2 separate regions of the Homo sapiens genome follow, and region 1 is linked to region 2. A link means that fine-mapping ties the variant in region 2 to the expression of a gene that starts in the linked region. Tissue or cell type: cerebellum. Region 2 holds a variant in brackets; the other region holds the start of a gene. All regions are shown on one strand. Distances are between the middles of the regions.

Evidence for each region. PIP is the estimated chance that this variant, and not a neighbour inherited with it, causes the effect.
Region 1: BDKRB1 starts here. The variant in region 2 is fine-mapped to the expression of BDKRB1 in cerebellum (GTEx, PIP above 0.99).

The regions. Positions count from the first base shown.
Region 1 is chr14:96,254,895-96,257,394 of GRCh38, forward strand. It overlaps BDKRB1 (bradykinin receptor B1), which reads left to right and starts at 1,316. Exons shown (of 3, transcript NM_000710.4): 1 at 1,316-1,406.
Region 2 is chr14:96,203,140-96,205,895 of GRCh38, forward strand. It overlaps BDKRB2 (bradykinin receptor B2), which reads left to right and starts at 1,700. Exons shown (of 3, transcript NM_001379692.1): 1 at 1,700-1,820. RefSeq lists an enhancer at 1,161-2,036. The variant C/T (reference allele first, on the strand shown) is at 1,663.

The sequences.
Region 1 (2,500 bases), 52 kb after region 2:
AGACCTGCACGTGCTCTTTGTGGCAGAGCTGGCCTTATACGCACTCCTGGGTGAATAAACAGGGAGACATCTCCTAAGAACAAACGCTTCTCAGAAACAGTATAGTCTAAACTCATACTGAAGGGAGAATAAGCCAGCCACGGGCTGGAGAGACCCCCGCCTACATTACTAAGTAACAGGAAAGGCTAAGATTTGGAGCCTTCCTCCGGTTCAGATCTATCCCGGGAGTAATGGAAGATGCTTGCCTGTTGACAATTTTTTTTTATTAAAAATCCCACCCAGGAGGTCTCTCCTGATAGGAGGGGACCATCCTATCCTCTAAGGCAAATTCCAGCTTCTTCCCTGAAATGTACATCCGCTACTGAGCCTCAGAATGCTATTTGTTCCACCTACTTCCACAGTTTTAAGGTCTTCAGCAACAGGAGAAGACAGCAGGAAAACTTGAAGTGCAGTTGGCTCCCGCTGAGATGTCACTAGCAGAAAAAGGGAACACAAGCAAAAGGCAAGATTCTAAAGACAGAGGTGACACCTTCTGCTCCAAACATTTGGAGGGTCACCTTTCCAGAAGTCAGACTCGAAGTCCTGAATTCTGGCATGAATGAGTTCTCCTACGTGTAGGGGGTGGCCTGGAAAGATCTTAATTTGTAAGTTGACAGGTAAGGGGCCTTCAGTTGGAGAATCTTGTCACCTGATTCTCAAAGCCAAAAATATCTTACTGTCTGAAACATGAGGTCTTGAGTAGTTCAACTTGACCCATGCAGACATAATTTGAGAGACGCCAAGGAGGATTAGGAAAAAATGTATCTGGTCTTACTCAACTCTGAACATTGCATGAGTCAAACGTTTTCCTAGCTCTCTGTTTGTGTGATGGGTCCACTCTGATGGATTCTTGGCGATGTATCTTTCATGACCAAAATTCAAAAGAGGCCATTCGAAGTGGCTCCCACAAAAGCTGCTGCAGAGCCCCAGACATTCAGAAGCCAATAGTGAAGGGGCCAAAAGCCATCCCTCAATGTTCACTGACACTTTGCGAGCCTTGGGGCAAGTTGGCGATGTCAAAACATGTTTTTAGGGCGTGTTTGCCAACATACAGGTCTTGGGCAGGATTGCAGACCTCTGCAGATGGTACCAAAGTAAAGGGGGAGATGGTAGCTGAATAATCTCTTATCATCCCTAAAGTGCAAAGTGAAATGAGAGTGGATTTTTCCTTCCAAATCCACTTGGAGTGAGTCCCGAAAGACTCACTTTTGCGGCAATCCCCACAATGACATCACTGGAGCGGAGGTTATATAATTTAAAGCAACCACATCTCCACAGCACTTCCCAGAAGAGAAAACTCCTCCAAAAGCAGCTCTCACTATCAGAAAACCCAACTACAGTTGTGAACGCCTTCATTTTCTGCCTGAGTAAGTAAATGACCACCTTTTTTTTTTCTTTTATGAGAGTACAATATGAGAGGAAATCTGTGTCTCTTAGAAAAACAAAAAACTTCCTTTTACACCTACCTATTGGCAAAATTTTCCACTTCTGTGAGGGTACTTTTTAAAAATAATTCTAAATCAATTTAAGAGACTTTTATTTCATGCCTAGTTTGGGTCTTAATTGCTTTTCCAGAACAGGAGGAGGAGGGAAAGGTTTTAGAACTCGTAGGAAGGTTCCAGTAGCTCCTTATATCAAAGTCAGGTGAAACATGTCAGGGCTGAATGCAGCCACCAGAGTTCGCATGGACTGACCAGTTACAGCCTGCAAATTCTGAATCATAAAAATTAAATTAGTCTCTCTGGGATGGCTTACAAGATTTCATAAGACCAATAACTGGTTGGGTTATTCGTGGCTTGAAAGTAGCATCTTACTATGTGACCGTGCTGATGGTCTTTAACATCTGTGGCTGAATTTCCAATGCCTTTAACATCACCATGCTGTTGAAATTGGAGTTAATTTGAAGAATTAACTAATTTGTTGAAGAAAGTCACACTGTCTCATAGCCTAGGTTAAAATGTGCAGAATTCAGAAAATACCACACAGGAATTACAGAATTGCCATCTCTTGTAGACTTGCCCAGTGCCCCTTCTGAGTTCTTCAAATAGGGTCACATATTACTAACAATATCCAGAGATATTGTTTATTGAGCACCTACTATGTTCCAGGCAAATATCAGAGCTAAAGCTGAAAACTGGCAAAGGAAGATTTCTCCTCTCTAGCCAACTTTATAAACACAGACAGCAGCAGGTGAGGACAATCCCTTTAAAAATAAGCCCCATGTGAGCAGACACATGCTGTGGCTGCAGTGGCCCCAGCCACCTCCCCGTCCTGGGGATGGGGGCGGTGTCCACTGACCTAATCAGGTTCGAGCTAAAGTCCCTGCGTAGCTGGTCGTCTCTGGCTTCCTGGGCAGGGTGCAGCCTCACCCCCGTGCTGGTTTCCTAAGGCTGCTATAATTAATTATCACAAAGTGAGTGGCTTAAAACGATGCAAGTTATTATCTTACAGTTCTGGAGAT
Region 2 (2,756 bases):
GTCCAAGCAAGCTGGAGCTATAGGCGGCAGCTATGTGTGGCACGTAGGGTGGTGTTAACGAGGTTTCCTTGGCTCCCTATGGATTGGCTAACTTAAATAAGTTTGTGAGTTCCAGATGATGGGAGCTGTCCATTATTGTTTGGTACCTGGCTCCAAGGCCATCAGGGCAGGTGGCTAGTGGCCCAGAGTGTGAGAACCTGGTAAGAGAAAGGGCCAGAATGTGAACTTAATCAGCTGCTCATGAACTGGCTGGCCTCCAGCCAGGACCTCAAAACTGGTTTAAAGTAGCCTTTTTAAAAAACTATATGACAGAGATGGATGGAGATGTGTGCAGATGGACAGATGTCTTTTAGAGATTTCTGTCAATGATATTTACAGAAGCATCAACATTGGATTCAGATCCTTGAGGATTTTCAACTCATAGATACAGAGCTCTACAATATCTAAGTTGGAAGAGACTTCAGAGGGTCTCTGGACGCTCATGCAGGTCTCAATATGTTGTGGATCTCAGAGCTCTTCAATATTTTAGTGAAAGCTATAGATGAGGCTCCATAGGGGATAAAGCACAGACACACCTTTTCAGAGGGCTTGTGGACTCTGGGCAGCCTGTCCATAGACCTCTGTCCCCAACTGGCAAGTCAGGAAACTCCAGATTAAGGAGCCCCAATGTGGTTGAACAGCCAGGTGCACAGATGAGTCAACCACACAGCCAGGCCAGGGAGGGCCTTCACTCAAGAGCCTACAGCCAGTTCACAGCCAAGCCAGGGCTAGCGCCCAGGCCACCCATAAACTGATCTGAGACTCTGTTTCCCTGTCTCCATGATGATGGGATCAGGCTTGATTGCTGGTTTGTAGGCTTGTTATGAATCAAGTCACAGGGAAGAGGAGCTGATGGGCTGGGGGGACGTCCTCTGGCCCTCCTGTCTCTTCCCCAGATCCACTGGGCCCACTCTTATCTGTTCTCTTCTGAAGGAAGGGTTTTAAGGCTTCAAAAAAAAATGTTTTGAAAGTCCCTGCCCTTTCCAGCTCCTACCGTCTCAGCCCTGGGAGTGTAAAGTGCTGCAGATAGTTAGTAAGTCTTTGAGCAAAACTGAGAAAGCCAGCCTGAGCCTTGACATGGGAGAAACCTCCGCCATACATCTCCGAAGAAACGGCCGCGTGTCTCAGGGGAGCGCAAACACCCGTACCCAGGAAACAGGACAGCTTCTGCCACTGTCGCCCTTGGGAGCCGTACGTGGCATACAAAGAAATCCCAGGACTCCGCCTGCCCACCTGGCCACCCTCTGTTTACACCTTCCGCGTAAACGCCCACTGTTTACATCCAAAACTCAGACACAAAATAACCACCTCAAGAAGATAAATAATGATAAGAAATAAATGTTACGCGAGGCAAATTTATTCACATGGGGCTTCCCAGGCCACTTTGTGGTCAGCCGGGAGGGACGTTTTTGCCGTCCCACGACTCCAACGGGCAGCCGGGCTACGCAAACATGGAAATCTTCCAAGAGCCTCCCTGGCCCCCAGGGCTCAGAGGGTGGCAGAGCGGAGAGCGAAGGTGGCCGCAGCCTTCCCGGCCCCACAGCCAGCCTGGCTCCAGCTGGGCAGGAGTGCAGAGCTCAGCTGGAGGCGGAGGGGGAAGTGCCCAGGAGGCTGATGACATCA[C/T]TACCCAGCCCTTGAAAGATGAGCTGTTCCCGCCGCCACTCCAGCTCTGGCTTCTGGGCTCCGAGGAGGGGTGGGGACGGTGGGGACGGTGGGGACATCAGGCTGCCCCGCAGTACCAGGGAGCGACTGAAGTGCCCATGCCGCTTGCTCCGGAGAAGGTGGGTGCCGGGCAGGGGCTGCTCCAGCCGCCTCACCTCTGCTGGGAGGACAAACTGTCCCAGCACAGAGGGAGGGAGGGAGGGCAGGCAGCGGGGAGAAGTTTCCCTGTGGTCGTGGGGAGTTGGGAAAAGTTCCCTTCCTTCCGGAGGGGAGGTCTGACAGGCGATGGGGAGAAGGGTTCCCAGCAGGAGGAATCGCCCTGTTTGTCTGTTGTAGGTTTCTCTTCTCTGAATCAAGGTGACAGACAGGCTTGTGTGTGTCCAGTGTGTGAGGGATTTCGTGATTGGATTTTCACATACTTTGAGTGGACACCTTGGAGTAAGGCAGCGAGGTGTGTGTGGTGCAGCAGGGACGGGTGCTGGGTGGAGGCTCCAGAACCTGGCTTTTCACCCACAGCTGTGCCACTCCTTGGCCCTGTGTGACCCTGGACAAGCTATTCAACCTCTCTGAGCCTCAGTTTCTCTGTCTGCAAAGCAGCCAGCTCGCTGGCTCCCTGGGGGTGGCAGGGTTAAATCAGAAGCAGGCGGGGGTGGGGGGGTTTGTGAATGTTGGCTGATGCGCCTCCAGGAGGCAGGTGGTAGTGACTACCTCAGATGGGCTTAGAGACCCTCTTCCCACGGTCCTGGCTGACCAGGGCAGGGGGATAGGATGGTGCAGGGGTTCCAAGCACCGGCTTTGCATCCGGCCCAGGTTGCAGCTCCAGCCCTGCTCTCACCCTGTGGGTGACGTTTTTGGGCGAGTTATTTTGTCCTGTCTCCTGAGCTATAAAGAAGACCTGGAAGTTCCTCTTTATGCAAAGATAGAGGTAGGCTCTTGCCTGTGAAGCACCACGTATGTCATAGGCACTAAATAAATGGCAGCCGTGATTCGAGTTGCTGAGAGTAGGTCGTTTCCGCAGCCTGGGTGGAGGTGAACAGCAGGTGTTGCTGTTCCAG